4 linked regions of the Homo sapiens genome follow. The protein of the gene in region 4 interacts with the protein of the main gene of each other region in a pairwise test. Each region holds a gene or a part of one and is shown on either strand. Other genes may lie near its edges. The genes, in order: BEND7, HOXD10, MTNR1A and GEMIN2.

Evidence for each region.
Region 1: the proteins of GEMIN2 (region 4) and BEND7 interact in binary tests that used the Homo sapiens proteins (3 or more experiments, as listed by UniProt).
Region 2: the proteins of GEMIN2 (region 4) and HOXD10 interact in binary tests that used the Homo sapiens proteins (3 or more experiments, as listed by UniProt).
Region 3: the proteins of GEMIN2 (region 4) and MTNR1A interact in a two-hybrid assay, tested with the Homo sapiens proteins (one large-scale study listed by BioGRID and IntAct).

What each region holds. Positions count from the first base shown.
Region 1 is NC_000010.11:13,490,435-13,495,272, forward strand, and holds part of BEND7 (BEN domain-containing protein 7), read right to left. Parts: intron 2,443-4,838; coding exon 2,177-2,442; intron 1-2,176.
Region 2 is NC_000002.12:176,114,302-176,119,577, forward strand, and holds the start of HOXD10 (homeobox protein Hox-D10), read left to right. Parts: upstream 1-2,476; 5' UTR 2,477-2,532; coding exon 2,533-3,277; intron 3,278-4,652; coding exon 4,653-4,930; 3' UTR 4,931-5,276. UniProt on the Homo sapiens protein: Sequence-specific transcription factor which is part of a developmental regulatory system that provides cells with specific positional identities on the anterior-posterior axis.
Region 3 is NC_000004.12:186,532,739-186,536,783, forward strand, and holds the end of MTNR1A (melatonin receptor type 1A), read right to left. Parts: intron 1,820-4,045; coding exon 951-1,819; 3' UTR 917-950; downstream 1-916.
Region 4 is NC_000014.9:39,133,585-39,137,998, forward strand, and holds the end of GEMIN2 (gem-associated protein 2), read left to right. Parts: intron 1-76; coding exon 77-135; intron 136-2,855; coding exon 2,856-2,895; 3' UTR 2,896-3,389; downstream 3,390-4,414. UniProt on the Homo sapiens protein: The SMN complex catalyzes the assembly of small nuclear ribonucleoproteins (snRNPs), the building blocks of the spliceosome, and thereby plays an important role in the splicing of cellular pre-mRNAs.

The sequences.
Region 1 (4,838 bases), on a different chromosome or scaffold from region 4:
AGATGGGAATCCGGGGCTCACTTCCCACTCAGTCCCCGTGTCCCTCCTGAATGTCTCTCCATGCTCTCCTCTCCAGGCTCACTGCTCCTGTCTAGCCCTCCTGATCTCCTGCCTGGCAGGCTGCATGCATCTTCCTCCGGCTATCTCTATCTTTCTGTCAGCCGCATGCTGTTCTAGCTACGGTTCTAAGATTCAGGCACAATTCTTCCTTTACTGGAAACTTGCAATGGCTCCCTCCTGCCCACAGATAAAGGCTGAAGGCCTCACCTGGACTTTCACTCTCTCACCCCACCCTGCTTTTACCAATGCCAGCCAGACAGCTGTTCTAGCAACACTGGGCCACTTGCCCAATCCTATGATTTTGTTTTTTTGTTTTTGTTTTTTTTTGAGACGGAATCTCCCTCTGTCACCCAGGTTGGAGTGCAGTGGTGTAATCTCGGCTCACTGCAACCTCTGCCTCCTGGGTTCAAGTGATTCTTATGCCTCAGCCTCCCGAGTAGTTAGGACTATAGGCATGTGCCACCACATCCAGCTAATTTTTGTATTTTTAGTAGAGAACGGGTTTTCCCATGTTGGCCAGGCTGGTCTCGAACTCTTGACCTCAGTTGATCTGCCCACCTTGGCCTCCCAAAGTGTTGGGATTACAGGGGTAAGCCACCATGCCTGGCCTCACTTTTCTTTAGAAGCATGTTATTCTTCCAAGACAATCAACAGCTAACTGAGTTTTCATTAGCCGGGGGTGGTGGCAAGTACCTGCAGTCCCAGCTACTCAGGAGGCTGAGGTAGGAGAATTGCTTGAACCCAAGAGGCGGAGGTTGCAGTGAGTGGAGATCATGCCACTACACTCTAGCCTGGGCGACACAGCGAGACTCTGTCTAAAAAAAAAAAAAAAAAAAAATGCTTAGAAAATTTAAGGACTGAATGTACTTTGTGTTGAGGAATAATTTACCTCTGTTTCCGAATATGTGATCTACCTGGGGTTTGACTCAGGGCCCTAGTTGCAATAGCAATATGATATCATTGCATGAGCTGACTGGTCCAGCATAGAACGTTATCATCATTAATGATGTTTTAAAATTAAATTTTTAGACTAGATGAACTTCTTAACAATTGTAGCAAGTGTTTATAGATTTCAAAAAAAAAAAAGAACCTTTAACACCGAGAATTAGGTAAAAGTTCCAACAACTTTCCAATCTAAAAAAGTCACAAGATGATGATTTTTGTCCCCTCCCTTTGTTAAAAACCCAATGTGGATATACCCTAGCAAACTGTCTTCCCACAATTTCTTTCAAAATTTTTAAAACTTTTTTAAAAAGCAATTTGTTTCCTACTTAAAGTTTAAAAGGTATGGCCAACCTCCAATCCTATACAGGCCTGCGGGAGTTCGCAGCAGGATTCTCGTCCTATGCAATCTGATAAGAACAGATCCCCCATTCTTGTTTATTTTAAGAACTCTCCCAACAAGTTAAGGTTCACAACACAAACATACTTAGAGAAAGACATTGTAAATAGAAATGCAATTGCAAATATAGTGCACTATTAAACACATTCGTTTATGGTCCTATGAATGTAAAATAGCAAGTCAGATGGTTATCTCGGATGTCATCCAACATTCTGGACTGCGGCAACATTCTGGCTGTGATATTAAAATAGAAAAACCTTTGCAGAGCCTTAACCTATCATTACACGGAGTAAATGGCATGGCGCTGCCACCTAATTAGTGGTGTGGCTTGCATCTATAAAATAGAATTAGCATGACTGCTCCTTTTTTATTATTAGTTTGTGTTTCCAGAAAGGTGCGATCTTATCTGTATGGCCCTGTTCATTTATGCCCATCTACAAAGGATTTAATTATATTCTTTTAGGTCTCTACACTAAGGAAATTGAAAATTGTCACTGCAAAATTAAAAATGCAAAAGAAATTAGTGAGCAGATTATTTACGCCATCACCCTCCTCCTTTCGGAGACAAAAACTGGAAACCTGTCTAAATAAATAAGGCATCACATTTTCAGAAAAGAAAACTCCAGACAAGAAAATTATTACCAGTCTTCTTTTCTTCTTTCCCACATATAGTCTGCAAGTTTCTCTAGTTGTCAAAAGGGAAATCTATAAATACTATAAAATTCCCAAAAGTTACATAGCATTAGAGTCAGCAGCCAGAAAATGGCAACTTACATCTGAGGAAGGTGATTCCAGAACAATGCCGAATCCTAGAACGCGGCTCTCCTCCGGGGAGGTGTGCTCGGCTGCCTGGAGAGCAGATAGCTCAGAGGCCACCACCGACTTTTTCTCCATCTCTGACCCACTGGGCTTCTGTTTCACAGTAAGAGGTTCCACAGTCTTTGGGGGCACTTTTTTCTTTTTATTTCTCTTTCGTGAGACAGCAGTTCGCTGGGAGCATATAAGGGAAATTGGAGGTTGTTGTCTGTTTTGAGTTCCAACTGCGAATAATAAACAAAAATATGGTACAGGCACGTGTGTCTGACTTAGGAAAACTTATCTCCGGTCTATCCATGTGATCTACAAACTGAAACCGAAACGAGGAAAACTCCAGGATGAAGCACACTAAATAAATCTCCAACTGGACCTAAAGGTTACCAAACGCAGGCTCTGAAGCACTTTCAAGTCCTAAAGGCAGAAAAATACTCAGGAGAAAGCGTTACTGCAGGTGAATCGTGACAGCATACTGCTGTTGGGTTCAATGCAGGGAAAGGATCATGAGCTGTGAGAAAACACCTGAGCATGGCTTTATAAATCATAGGATGTTTTTAAATAAATGAGAACTTCGGGATTTAAATTTAGATAGAGACGGCTGTGCTTCCTTGTAATCCTGTTTCAGGATTACATTTGGGGTTAGACTGATCCGTTCCTAATAATCTACAGGTGCCAAAACTGATAAAGATGAGACAGTGATGATCATTTGCGCAAGACTGATCAAAAGAAGCCGTCTGGGATGATTCTACATTAGGGACCAGTAAGCATGTGGGAAAAGCCTATTAGTTACTTAATTAGGACCAGTGAATCCTTCCTCACCAAACAAATATTCTCCACACATCAACCACCTCCAGAGCACCCTGCTACATGGCCTCAGACCAGGCTACTTCTCTAGACCTCGGTTTCACATAACTGAAGGAGCAATATCATTCTGTACAAGTCAAGCAAATCAGTGAAATCTAGAAACAGTTCCAAACATGAAAAGCACAGTACAGGAACCAAGTATTCAACCTGATTCTATACTTAAAGAAATCCAGGATGGTAAATTACAGTTCTCACAGGTGCACTCTGAGAAGTTATGTTTGCTAGCCATTTAAAAATACTCTCTTGGAAAGTGTAATTGGAAAACATGGCATCATTGTTTAAATCCTCAAGTATTAATATAGCTTCCTAAATATGACTATAGGATGTCCCTGCTTTTCAACAGAAATGAACCTATAAGACAAGTGAAAACTAAAGGTCTTTAAAGGCATATAAACATGAATCACCTCCTCTTACCTCTTATCAGTCTGAAAATAAAGAATATTTACACTTTGATCCTGATATTTTTGTCTCCAAATTCAAAAGCAATTCATAAATATTAGAAGCAAACTAATTGCACTACATAAGAGCACAGAAGTTTTTAAACCAGTAATTAGTCTAGCTCAATGGTTCTCAACCTTGGTTGTACATTAGAATCACTTGAGTTTAAAAAAACTGAGATGCCGGGCCAGGCATGGTGGCTCACCCCTGTAATCCCAGCACTTTGGGAGGCCGAGGTGGGCGGATCACGAGGTCAAGAGATCGAGACCATCCTGGCCAACATGGTGAAACCCCGTCTCTACTAAAAATACAAAAATTAGCTGGGCATGGTGGTGGGCACCTGTAGTCCCAGCTACTTGAGAGGCTGAGGCAGGAGAATCACTTGAACCCAGGAGGCGGAGGTTGCAGTGAGCCGAGATTACGCCACTGCACTCCAGCCTGGCGACAGAGTGAGACTATGTCTCAAAACAAAAACAAAAACAAACAAACAAAAAAACTGAAATGCCTCAGCCCCACCCCAGACGAAGTGAACTGACACCTCCAGGCATGCTGCCTGGGAAACAGCATTGTCTGAAAGCTCTTCCAGTGATTCTGCTGTGCAGCCAGAGTTGGGAACTTCTCTTTGGTCTCTCTGCATTCCCCCTCAAGGCTGGGTCTGCACCCTCAGAATCAAAGGGACCTCGAATAATGATCACGATGGTCTAGGCCCCAGGCCTTGCTAAGCCTCATGATTCTCAATTAGAAATGAAAATGTTTTGGTTTAAGGAACACGGGGACTATCTGAGTTTTTCTTCTCCTTTTGCAAATCTAGACACAGCCCAAGTCTCTGGCATCCAGATCTTACCTCTAGGTCTTATTCCCTGTCTTCTTAAAAGAAAGGTGAAACTTTCTAAATGTAATTTAAATCTAAGTCTTCAGGCATTAAACCTTAAGTAAATCTACCCACATGACACAAATTTTTAAGTTTAAGAAAATTAAAGGAGAGTAATTTATTCAGTTTATCCTTTGTGCCATCCTACAGCTTTGGAATCGTTTACCTCCCTAATCTGCAAAGGTTCAGAAAAGAAAACATAGCGACAAAGTGGCATTTACTTAATAGATTCTAAAAAGGCTTCCGTCAAGGATTTAAATGGTTGCAATTTGTAGTTTGCCATTTCAGTAGTAAGGAGCTTAAGTGACAAAACAAATCATTACAATTTCATATGCATATTTTCTTAAGTGCTAACAAATTCCTCCTCGGAGAAAAGAATCCGAACATCATAAAGTAACCTTTCTTTCTGAGCTCCTTATTTAGGAGATGTTAACCTCCTCCAGGTTAATA
Region 2 (5,276 bases), on a different chromosome or scaffold from region 4:
ACCTAGAGTCAAAAGTTATGTTTTGTCTTGTTTTGTTTTTCCGGCCATCCTCAACCCCCACCCCCAAGCTCGAAAACAGCCACCCCTGTGGAAAGGTAATGTTTAAACCCCAGGCTATGCTGGGATGCTGCAGCCAAAGCAGTTAGAGGCGCCAGGCTTTTAACCTGACAATGATGTTGTATTTGAACAGCTGCGTAAAGGTTTAAAAGGTCTGTCTCATTGCCACCGCGGAGTTTTTTAAAAGAGGTTATTGTTTGGGCGAGAGCACCGAGAGGGAACAGGCGAAAGGGTCCCAAGGCCGAAAATAATGTTCAACGCTTGTTTCAACCAGGCCAGGGGAGATTCCTTTTTGGGAAGAGGGACAAAGGGTTTTTTGGGAAAGGTTTTTGTAAAGGAGCGGGCGGGCTACTAGGTCCCCCAGAATGCTGAGGCGCTTTAATGAACCTCAGGCCCCAAAGAAATGTTCTATTGAGGTGGAAACCCAATTTACCCACAAGTTCAGTCTCTGGGCCTGAAATCCAAGGCCAGCCCATGCCCCAGCGAGTACGGGGAAAAGAGAACACAGATGCCCTCCCGGACTGAGAACTGGTTCATGGTCAGAGTTTCTGGGACCGCTTTAGTTTCTTGGCTGGCAGGAAGGGAACCTGGCAGGCCGAAGGACGGCTCCAAGCCCTGGCCGGCCCCTCACTCAGGGCAAGTCTTTGGAAATCAAGGTTAAAGCTCCCCGCTGCTGCCCCGAGGCCCGGGCTTCCGCAGGGCGGCTCACCCGCCTGCAGCAAGAGAGGGAGGGAGGAAGTTGTTGAAGTTTCTCATAAAACTCTGAGTTTCCATGGTGGTAGTGGTGGTAGTGGTGGTAGTGGTGGTAGTGGTGGTTCTTTAATGAGCCGGACCACAACCCCAGACCATATCCTCTTCATAGAAGTTTCCCTCACCAAAGGAAACAGAGAACTAAGATTCCCACCTCCTTCCCCTCCCTTACCCAAGCAAAGCCTTGTCAAATAATTTCAGAAATTGTCCAAAACTGTAAAACTCAACTTCTGACAAAAGTATAGCTTTTAATATTTGACAATTTGTATTAAAACAAAAATGACCTTCTTGGTTAGCAGCGAAGGGAAAAAAATCAATAGTATAATTTTCAATAATTCATAAAGCGAACGCCATTATGGTAAATTTAACTATTAATCTTATCCTTTACAAAGTCTCGATTGATTTGTTAATAAAGTATCTTCCCGTGTGTGGCAACAGCGGGCATAACTCTTTAAAAACCTTCAGAAGCAAGAAAATTACCAAGTAGCCCAAGAATGTAGATGAGAATTTTATTGATCGCCCTGATTCTTCTTAATATGTATTAATAAATTCCACAACCTTTTGTACCTTGCACTTGTCAGAAACCAGTGCTTTTACAAAATCCATAAAAGGAAAACATTTTTCTTTGCAGAAGAACCAAAATGACACCTTTGCATTTCTCTCTGTCCTTCTTGGCCCAGTCAGTTTTCTAAAACTTCTGGATTCTGAGGGTCAGAGTTTCCCCTTTTCTTAAATTATTTTTTCCTTTCTTCCTTCCTGTTTGCCCTCCATTATCAGGGTGTGGGGAGAGAAACCTCTGTTTAGTTCTCCTACAGGGAGCCCGAGGGACGCTTTCGCGGATAGTGAACTGCTGGCAAAGAATTGTCTCTGGGCTGAAAGCTCCCAGAGGTCCGGCCCCGCAGAGGTCAGGGTGTGGTTCCTCTGAGAGCCGAAGCCTCGTGTAGCCCTCCGGGGCGCATAGGAACCCGGAGCCAGGCAGGAGGACCGAGCGGGAGGACAACGCAGGGACCAACCCATCCATGGGGATCCGGGCCCGGCCAGCTGCTTGGCCTCCCGGCCCTCGCGGCCCTTTTTGCCTCCGCCCTCCTAGAGACACCTTGGCCGCTTCTTAGCCCCAAGGGATCTTTCCTTTGGACCCCTGGGGTGGGATGTCTCAGGGCCCGCGGAATCCGACTCACCTTCCCGCTGGGCTGCCCGGGACTAAATTAACCAGCCTGCGCCCCCACCCGCTTGTCCTGGACCCGGCCCTCTTAAGCGCGTTCTGCCTGGTTGTGTGTGGGGGGAATGCTTCTGTGCGCTGGCGCCAGGGCACTCTGGCTTCCCTCCCCGTCCGTGCGTGTCCACTTGGAGGCCCCTAGAGCTGAGACTTTCCTTCCGCCGGTTGGGCCCAGGGGCCGAAGCGGGGGACGCGAGTGGGGCGGGCTGGCCGAGCGAGCCCTGGAGAGGCGGACAGGAGGGCGGCGGAGAGCGCTGGGCCGGTTGTCTCCAGCGCGCACTATCGCGGGCGCGTAGTAGATGTCGCTGTTGTCCGTGCTTACCCGGCCGGCCGGCCAGGCTCTGGAGCACGTGACCCGAGAGGAGGCTGCGGCTCAAGGCCATTTTCAAATCTCATTGGCTTGGTTGTCATGTGGTCGGCAGAGGCATCCACAATTACACGGGGAATGTTTTCCTAGAGATGTCAGCCTACAAAGGACACAATCTCTCTTCTTCAAATTCTTCCCCAAAATGTCCTTTCCCAACAGCTCTCCTGCTGCTAATACTTTTTTAGTAGATTCCTTGATCAGTGCCTGCAGGAGTGACAGTTTTTATTCCAGCAGCGCCAGCATGTACATGCCACCACCTAGCGCAGACATGGGGACCTATGGAATGCAAACCTGTGGACTGCTCCCGTCTCTGGCCAAAAGAGAAGTGAACCACCAAAATATGGGTATGAATGTGCATCCTTATATACCTCAAGTAGACAGTTGGACAGATCCGAACAGATCTTGTCGAATAGAGCAACCTGTTACACAGCAAGTCCCCACTTGCTCCTTCACCACCAACATTAAGGAAGAATCCAATTGCTGCATGTATTCTGATAAGCGCAACAAACTCATTTCGGCCGAGGTCCCTTCGTACCAGAGGCTGGTCCCTGAGTCTTGTCCCGTTGAGAACCCTGAGGTTCCCGTCCCTGGATATTTTAGACTGAGTCAGACCTACGCCACCGGGAAAACCCAAGAGTACAATAATAGCCCCGAAGGCAGCTCCACTGTCATGCTCCAGCTCAACCCTCGTGGCGCGGCCAAGCCGCAGCTCTCCGCTGCCCAGCTGCAGATGGAAAAGAAGATGAACGAGCCCGTGAGCGGCCAGGAGCCCACCAAAGTCTCCCAGGTGGAGAGCCCCGAGGCCAAAGGCGGCCTTCCCGAAGAGAGGAGCTGCCTGGCTGAGGTCTCCGTGTCCAGTCCCGAAGTGCAGGAGAAGGAAAGCAAAGGTCGGTATGAGCAGAGTTGCCACCCCAGCGGGGCGCGCAGCCCGGGAACCCGGCAGAGAGGGAGTGCCGGGGTGCCCAGCGCCGAGCCGGAGCCCGACTTGGCAGGTGCTGCTCCGCCTGGTTTTAGAGGGGTGATCTCAGCCCTGAGATAGTCCCCGCTTCTCCCCTGCTGCCCTGGCCCTCTCCGCCAGTCCTGGCCCCACGCTGATGGCGCCCGGGCAGAGGAAAAGCTTGCCGGTTTTATTTTTCCTGAGCTAGACCTGAACACAACAAAAGAGCGCAAAGGAGACCTGCGGCTCATAAACACGACCACAGAGCCTCTTTTCTCCTGCTCAGATTTGCAGTTCCAGTTTTGCCTTGAGCCCAATGATCATGTTAAGGTGATCCAGGGCACCGTGTTCGTGTTCAAGTGTATGCACCCCGCATCCTGCGAGCTTGGGGGTGGTGAGGGGAAAGAGATGGCTGGGCTGGTTGGTGCTTGAGTTGGGAAACAGGGCTTACTGCCTTTGCTGGGCTAGGTAACCTTGGCTTTGTTTAGGAAAAGTGCTGCAGTCTTTGCAATCCGTCGGCAAAGAGGGCAAAGGCGGAGGGGGAGAGTGGAACCCGCATTGCCCTCCCTGCAAGGCCAGCCTTAGGGCTGGGCTAAGGCAAAGAGCCAGGGATCTGGCTTTTTGAGAAGGAACCCTCCTCCTCTCCCCCAGTGCTTAGAGGTGGGCCACAGTAGGGGGCTCCCTTTCTGGGGGAATGCTTTAGTGTGGGGGCAAGAAGACATGAAAATTAAGGAAATTCTGGGGAATGCAACAATACCCAGGCAAGGTGGGGGAAGGTGTCTCGCTTCCCCATTTATCTTTTGAAAGAGAATGGGCACCTATAAACCTGACTGTCAGGATTCCTGACTGCCTAGGAGAGGTGGGGAAGAAGTGGCAGATTTGGGGACCTGAGGCAGCAGTGGGGTTGGTAGGCTTGTCCAGGTCGTGGCGTATTCCCCTCCGTCCCTGTTAGGAGCTGAACCCTTAGAATGTTGCTGGGGAGATCTGGAAAGTTTACTATTCTACTAATGTTTTGTACAAGTGAGAAAGTTGAAAGAGAGAGCGAGAACCCAAATGCAGACTGTCCTGCCATCATGTCATTTAAGTAATGTGGCATCAATGTAAGATTCCCTTCCAAGGCCCACTTCATGTGAGTAATGTTTAATACTAGCATTTTCCAAAGCGGCCTGGCTGCCAGCAGGGTCACGGCCAAGGGTACATTTGAACAGTCTGAAGAAAAAAACAAAAACGAAAACCAAAACCAAAACCAAAACAAAAACAAAAACAAAAACAAACAAACAAAAAACCTCTTGATTTTTTTCTTCTTCTCCCTTTAATTTTGTTAGAGGAAATCAAGTCTGATACACCAACCAGCAATTGGCTCACTGCAAAGAGTGGCAGAAAGAAGAGGTGCCCTTACACTAAGCACCAAACGCTGGAATTAGAAAAAGAGTTCTTGTTCAATATGTACCTCACCCGCGAGCGCCGCCTAGAGATCAGTAAGAGCGTTAACCTCACCGACAGGCAGGTCAAGATTTGGTTTCAAAACCGCCGAATGAAACTCAAGAAGATGAGCCGAGAGAACCGGATCCGAGAACTGACCGCCAACCTCACGTTTTCTTAGGTCTGAGGCCGGTCTGAGGCCGGTCAGAGGCCAGGATTGGAGAGGGGGCACCGCGTTCCAGGGCCCAGTGCTGGAGGACTGGGAAAGCGGAAACAAAACCTTCACCGCTCTTTGTTTGTTGTTTTGTTGTATTTTGTTTTCCTGCTAGAATGTGACTTTGGGGTCATTATGTTCGTGCTGCAAGTGATCTGTAATCCCTATGAGTATATATATATATATATATATATATATATAAAAACTTAGCACGTGTAATTTATTATTTTTTCATCGTAATGCAGGGTAACTATTATTGCGCATTTTCATTTGGGTCTTAACTTATTGGAACTGTAGAGCATCCATCCATCCA
Region 3 (4,045 bases), on a different chromosome or scaffold from region 4:
TAAGGGGATGGCTGGGTCAAATGGTTTTTTTTTTTTTTTTTTTTTTTGAGGCAGAGTCTCATTCTGTAGCCTAAGTTGGAATGTACTGGCGCGATCTCGGCTCACCACAACCTCTGCCTCTGGGGCTCAAGGGATTCTCCTAACTCAGTCTCCTGAGTAGCTGGGATTACAGGCGTGTGCCACCATGCCCAGATAATTTTTTGTATTTTTTTAGAGATGGGATTTCATCATGTTGCCCAGGGTGGTCTCAAACTCCTGAACTCAGTTGATCTGCCCACCTCAGCCTCCCAAAGTGCTGAGATTACAGGTGTGAGCGACTGTGCCCGGCCTATGATTTAGTTCTTTATCTGGTTGCATGCACAACTTGTAATATAGAGCAGCAAACATTTATGACCATGAGTATAGCTACCCAATGCTAACTCTGCCAGCTGAAAGGTTTGTGGTGTTGGTTGTGGTTGTGATTGTTGATGAGCCATTAACTGATTTATGTTCAGCCTTTCCCTCTGTAATAAGAGGCACTCACCCCACTTTCATTGTTTGTTCCATTTACAGAAAAAAAATTGTTCCATTTGCTCATTTATAAATAAAATTCTCTTTCATTTTTCTGCTAGAAGTCTTCAAAAAGTGAAGAAGAATGCAATTACCCCTTTTGTGGCACTCATTTACAATAAAAGTTTGCACACTCCTTCCCCTGAATGCATTCAGCAGCTTACTCTCACCCCAGCCCTGAACCGCATTCCTCAGTTAACATGTAACTCTCCATACATTCTGTACTTCTCTTGACTAGTAGAATTGGAGGGGTTTATAATGCTGACAGCACGTTAGCTCAGAAACTATGGCAGCAGCCAGGTAAAAGTTGGAAGTTTCCTCCACCACTCTGCTTTCCCAGACATCTGTCAAGAGCGAGGCCTTGCGCAGCGTGTCCATCTCACCCGGAACGTGGTGCTTTTTTAAACGGAGTCCACCTTTACTACATTATTGTTGGTCATCAGTGGAGACGGTTTCCATTTAACCCTATCGGCCACGTCGTTAGAGCTGTCCACAAAGAACACCCTGGCTGTACAGAGCGAGACTATAATTCTCCTGTATTCCTTCCTGAAATTTTGGTTCAGTAGCCCGTATATAATGGCATTGAGGCAGCTGTTGAAATACGCCATGTAGTAACTGGCCACAAACAGCCACTCTGGGATCCTAGGCACCATGCTGGCGGGGTCAGAGGCCACGGCCAGGCCAATGAAGTTCAGAGGAGCCCAGCAAATGGCAAAAAGGACAAAAACCACAAACATGGTGACAAAATTCCTGAAGTCCTGTGGTTTCAGTTTGGGTTTGCGGTCAGGTTTCACCCTCTGTCTGACCTGGAGAACCAGGATCCATATTCTCAGGTAACAGAAGATGACTATGATCATGGGGACGAGGAAGTGGAAAACCACCACGGCGATGGTGTAGGCGGAGCTGACGGACTGGGCGAAGGTGCACGAGTAGATCCTCGGGTCGTACTGGAGAGTCCCTGCACGGAGGTTGGGCAGGACGGCCGCCAGCGTCAGGAGCCATATGAGGAGCACGTAGCAGAGGGAGTTCTTGCTGCTGTACAGTTTGTCGTACTTGAGACTGTGGCAGATGTAGCAGTAGCGGTTGATGGCGATGCCGGTGATGTTGAATATGGAGCCGATGACGCTCAGGCCCATCAGGAACCCACTGACTTGGCAGTGCAGATAGCCCAGGTTCCACCCGTTGTTAAATATCGACATCAGCACCAACGGGTACGGATAAATGGCCACCACCAGGTCTGCCACCGCTAAGCTCACCACAAAGATGTTTCCTGAAAGAGAATCGTTTAGAAAATACAGTGAATACCAGTTCACAGTGGGTTTTCTGTTACAATTGTTAAAGAAGGAGCTGCTTCTGCAGCTCCGATGACCTGACGTCACAGCGGCGGCCGCACTGCAAATGAAGTGGAGGCCGTTTCCCAGGAGGGCCAGTCCACTGCCGCTCCTGACACATCGAATCCGCTGTTCACACATTCCCACCTCCCCAGAACAGGGCCTGTTCCATGTTCAAAACTGCTGTCTTTCAAACCGTTCGGCTTCTCATCTCTTAAAAAGTCCTGAGATCAGAATGCTTGCACACCATCTGTTGTTCTGGAGCCTTCTACATCACCTGAGAAATCTCATATGATGTCAAGCCAGCCACAACTTCCTTAAGTTCAAGTCTTCATTCCCTCTGTAGTGCTTCAGCAGCTCTCAGGGGGCCTCTAGCTTCTGTTCTTGCTGATCCCATAGAGAGGGAGTTAAGGGCAAGAGGGATCTGTCGTCAGCCGTCTGGATGAGAACATGGCTTCACTCCTTACTAACTGTCCAACCGGGGCAAGTTACTTGATCTCCCCAAGCACCTGCCTCCTCCCCTGGATGATGGGATAATGAGCAGCTTCCTCTTAGGGCTGTGGTGAGCACGAGATGAGACTATCTGTGGTGAGCGCCATGTACCGTGTCTTACACCATAGAAATGTTCTTATTCTACGACTCCCTCACCTTGAACCAAAGGAAAATGCAGAAATTCTCTTAGATCTTATAAAGAACTTACGTTACAAAACTTAAACCCTAAATAGTCTGTTAATTTTCTCAATTAATATAACAACACATATTTAATTACAGAAAAAAAAAACTCTAGTCACTTTTTTATTTTTATTTTTTTGAGACAGAGTCTTGTTCTGTCACCCAGTCTGGAGTGCAATGGTCCGACCTTGGCTCACTGCAACCTCCGCCTGCAGGGCTCAAGCAATCCTCCTACCTCAGCCTCCCAAGCAGCAGGGACCACAGGTGCACACCACCACACCCGGCTCGTTTTTGTATTTTTGTAGAGACGGGGTTTTGCCATTTTGTCTAGGCTGCTCTCAAACTCCTGGGCTCCAGCCATCCACTTGCCTCGGCCTCCCAAAGTGCTGGGATGGCAGGTGTGAGCCATTGCTCCCAGCTACATTAGTCAAATATTATGAGATGTTCTGCAAATATGTTTTTTTTCTTTTGCGGCTCTTCTGCCTCTGTTTCTTACTATTCCTTCTGCCTCGAATGGCTCCTCACATCAACTTTCTAAATCCTGCCCATTCTCCCAAGTCTATCTCAAATAGAAATGCCAGAAGCCTTTGCTCATTTGCCCACCTAGTGGTAAGAGCTTCCTCCTTTGAAGGGTCTTAAAGCACTTTATACTGCTTTTTACTCAGATTAAATTATAATAAATTCAATTCAGTTTACATATTAAATGCATATATTTGGTGCAGGGGGAAACAGGAATTGAGAGACAGGAAAAGTCAAAAAGATTACACTAGAGTGGTTGGGCGCAGTGGCTCACACCTGTAATCCCAGCACTTTGGGAGGCCAAGGTGGGTGGATCAACTGAAGTCAGGAGTTCAGGACCAGCCTGGCCAACATGGTGACACCCCGTCTCTACTAAAAATACAAAAATTCGCTGGGCGTGGTGGCGGGCACCTGTAATCCCAACTACTTGGAAGGCTGAGCCAGGAGAATTGCTTGAACCTGGGAGGCAGAGGTTGCAGTGAGCAGAGATCGCGCCATTGCACTCCAGCCTGGGTGACAAGAGCAAAACTCCGTATCAAAAAAAAAAAAGAAAAAAAAGAAAAAGAAAATTACACTAGAGTAAGCAGCAGCACCAGAGCACGCACAGACCAGAAGCTGTGAGGAAAGGGGTGCGCTGGACAGGGACAGAGGGAGCCCCAGGTGGACGGACAGAAGATTTCGCCTTCTATTCTATTGACCTGTAGGCCAGGCTTCCCTGCGTCTCCAGATGGTGGCCCTCGTGAGTACATTTCCTCATATTTGCGTCCTAGACCACACCCAATAAATACAGTGACTTTTGCTCATACACTCAATGAGTTCATTAAACTGTCACTTCCCAATATTTGAAATGAGACAGCCCATAGCAGTCAAGATGAGAGAAAGGCAAAATTTGTGCCATTTATTTAGGAATTTCAGATAAATTGTCATAAAAGCAAATACTTTAAAAATTGGTTGTATTCATCCAAATTAAAGTT
Region 4 (4,414 bases):
TTACATCTTAATAGAAAATTTATTTCAAAAGTAATAGGAACAGACAATATTTAAATTTTTCTTTTTTTTTTTTTAGGATAGCAAAGATGATGAGAGGGTTCCTGCTTTGAATTTATTAATCTGCTTGGTTAGCAGGTATAGTTAATCCTTGGCTTCTTTATTATTTATCAGTGAGGTCAGTGAGGTTAGATCGTATTTATTACATTTGGTTTTTGTTTGGTTGGTTTTTTTTTGAGTCTCACTCTGTTGCTATAGTTAGGGTGCAGTGGCGCAATCACAGCTCACTAGAGCTTTAACTTCCTGGGCTCCAGCAATCCTCCCACCTCAGCCTCCTGAGTAGCTAGGACCACAACCAAGCACCACCACACCTGGCTAATTAAAAAAAATTGTTCGTAGAGACAGGGTCTCACTATGTTGCCCAGGCTGGTCTCAAAACTCCTGGGCTCAAGCGATCCTCCCACCTAAGCCTCCGAAAGTGCAGGGATTACAGGTGTAAAGCCACTGCATTCAGCCTGCATTTTTGTTTAATTGCCTGTGTCCTGCGTTCATTTTCAGTTGTGGCATATTTTTATTTAGTATCTGTTTTATTTCATTTCTTACATAGAAATTCTTCTTGGAATTTATTTGAAAACTTTTTTTGTTGTTTTGTTTTGAGACAGAGTCTCGCTCTGTTGCCCAGGCTGGAGTGCAATGGCACCATCTCGGCTCACTACAACCTTCACCTCCTGGGTTCAAGCAATTCTCCCCCCTCAGCCTCCCAAGTAGCTGGGCTTACAGGCACCTGCCATCATGCCCGGCTAATTTTTGTAATTTTGTGGAGACGGAGTTTCACCATTATTGGCCAGGCAGTAAAACACACATATTTATTTTAGGTCTCCTCCTGGACATATTTTTGTTCCATAGATCAGTGTTTTTATTTCATTGCCAGTACCTTTTTAAAGCTTTATAATATACTTAAATATTGGGAAGGCAAGTAATCTTGTTTCCATATTTTCACATATTCAATATCTAGTTTCTTGATCTACAATAATTATGCTGCTGATGATAATTAACATTTACTGGGCAATTTGTGCCAAGCATTTTTCTTAGTGAGGAACCCATTTAATCCTTCTAAGGTGGGTACTGTTAACAGTTTACAGATGAGGAAACCATGGCAGAGAGAGGTTAAATAATATTACTACCATCACAAAGCTAGTAAGTGTTAGAGTAATGATCCAAACCCAGGCAACTTTGACTCCGGAGCTAAACTTTTAACTATGCTGATCAAAAATTAAGCTAATACCTACCTCATCTGTTGGTAGTAGCAGTTAAATGAGATGATATAGCATTGCCCTACTTACTTTATGTATAGTATCTCTACTCTTTACAATAGATCAGAGTTGTGTTTTTGTTTTTGTTTTTGTTTTAATAAATTTTTTCCTTTCAGCTCTGTTGGACTTGATTTTTTTCCTTTTACAGATAATGACACAGATTCAGAAAGGTTAAGTAATTGGTAGCTCAGCAAACCAGTAATTAATGAAACCTCAGACAAGTATAGTTTCTGACTGCCTCAGTTGAGATTTTACAGTATTATGCAATTATGAAAGCAAAAACATTCAAGTGTATTTTTTGCCCTCAAAAAGTTAGATAAAAATGGAAAAAGTTCTAGACTACAAAAGGTTCTGAAGCTAACAGCTTTACAATAGAAGACACAAAGATTTGAAAGTTTAGGAAAAAAAGGACCGGGCATGGTGGCTCATACCTGTAATCCCACCACTTTGGGAGGCCAAGGCGGGTGGATCACCTTAAGTCAGGAGTTCAAGACTAGCCTGGCCAACATGGTGAAACCTCGCCTCTACTAAAAATAGGAAAATTAGCCGGGCACGGTGGTTCACGCCTGTAATCCCAGCTACTCGGGATGGTGAGGCAGGAGAATCACTTGAACCTGGGAGGTGGAGGTTGCAGTGAGCTGAGATCGTGCCATTGCACTCCAGCCTGGGCAACAAGAACGAAACTCCATCTCAAAAAAAAAAGAAAAAAGAAAAAAAAAAGGAAAGCTGGGCACAGTGACTCACACCTGTAAGCCCAGTGCTTTGGGAGGTCAAGGTGGGAGGATTGCTTGAGTCCAGGGGTTCAAGAATGCAGTGAGCCATGACAAAATCTGATTAGTGATTTTCCTTTTTATTTAATCTTATAATTACATAAAATAGTTACCTTGCCAAAGTTAAAATTATAATTCAAGGTACATTTGGAGTATTTTAGCATCCATCTTTATCCTCATTATCCTCTTTTTTCCTTTCTCCTCTAGTTAACCATTGTATTACTAATTTTTGTTTCATCTTTTCATTCATTGTTTCTTTTTAAAAGTATAAGTAGGCCGCATGTGGTGGCTCAAGCCTGTAATTCCAGCACTTCGAGAGACTGAGGCTGGAGAATTGTTTGAGCCCAGGAGTTCAAGACCAGTCTGGGAAATGAGCCATGATCATGCCACTGCACTCCAGCCTGGGTGACAGAGTGAGACCTTGTCTCAAAAAGGAAAAGAAAAATATAAACAAACACGTATATTGGCAGTCCTACACATACTCACATAAGGTAGCATACAGAACAATCTGTTCTGTACTTCGTTTTTTTTCACTTAATAAATCCTGGAAATCATACTTTAGCAGTATAAATACGTTCCTCATACTTTAGCAGTATAAATATTTCCCTCATTTCTCTTTTTATGGCTTCATAATTTTCCACTATGTAGACATACTATAGCTTATTTAACCAGTTTCTTATTGATGGACGTTTGGGTTGCTTATGGTCTTTGGCTATTAAAAATAGTGCTACAGTTAATATCTTTATACATAAATTTTTTGTTTTTTTTTTACTAGGTATTTTGACCAACGTGATTTAGCTGATGAGCCATCTTGATGTAGCTGATCTCTCAGGGATAGAAGATATTTCTCATGAAGGCAGCCTAACTCTGAGGAAAACAATGCCAATTCAAGTACAGATTTCAACACATCTTCAACACTATGTGAAGGGTTCACATCTTAACCTGTGCAATTCAGATTGATACTCAGAATATGGGTTGATTTGAATATCTGAAATATCAATGGAAAATCCCACTCAGTTTTTGATGAACAGTTTGAACAGTTTTCTGTAATCAAGCAGCTTGCATAGAAATTGTATGATGAAATTTTACATAGGTTCTTGGTGCTGTTTTGTTCTTTTTTTGTTTTTTGTTGTTTTGTTATTTACTTATATACATATAAAATTTTATTGAAAATATGTTTTGGTTACTAAAATTTTGTTTGACTCCTAACAAAAGACAATGGATGGCCTTAGCATCAGAATTAAAATAATCTGGATTAAATGGCAATGTGTTCATAGTCAGCAATAAAATTAAACATTTTTCCCTTTAAGCTCAGCACTTTTTTTTTTTTTTTTTTTTTTTCTTTGAGATGGAGTCTCGCTCTGTCATCCAGGCTGGAGTGCAGTGGCAGGATCTCAGCTCACTGCAACCTCTGCCTCCCAGGTTCAAGTGATTCTCCTGCCCCAGGCTCCCGAGTAGCTGGATCTACAGGTGTCCGCCACCAAGCCTGGCTAATTTTTGTATTTTTAGTAGAAACAGGGTTTCACCATGCTGGCCAGGCTGCTCTTGAACTCCTGATCTCAGGTGATCCGCCCGCCTCAGCCTCCCAAAGTGCTGGGATTACAGGCATGAGCCACTGTGCCTGGCCTCAATATTTTTATTTTTAAATGCTTTATTGCACAAATAGAACTTTATCTAACAAATCACTTTCAAAAATAACAGGTCAACTGTTTTAATTTGTTTATGTCACTTATAACTTACCTATTTCTGTATCAGGTAGGAATGTTTTCTGCTTTAAGTAACACAAAAGATCCAAGTGGCAATGGTTCTTCAAATAGGGGTTTTTCTCAGATAACAAGAAGTCTAAAGGAGCTGGCCACTGGCATTGGTTTAGTGACTCAGTGATATCAGGGGCTCAGATTCCTTTAGCCTTTCTGTCATGGAAACAAGATGGCCATTGCAGTTCAAGCCAATGTGTCTGTATTCAAGACAAAAAGAAGGGGAAGCAGGGCCTTCCACATCTGATCCTTTTCTCATAAATGTAAAATCTTTTCTAGAAATTTAGATCAGACTTGTGTTCATCTGCTAGCCATAAATGTACAACATGATCACCCCTTGTTCCCAGGAAAGTGGGAAAATGAAGCTGTACGCCTTTCCAGTCTCACTAATGGAAGGTGGGAAAGGAAAATGGGGATTGGGAATTACCATGGATCAGACAACCAACAGTTTTGCCACCAGTTATAATTAGAGCAGAGGTCATTTTATATTTGAATCTTTTCTGTAATGTCTTCATAAAGCTCACTTTATTATTATTTTTGTTTGTTTTTGAGACGAGTCTCGCTTGGTTGCCCAGGC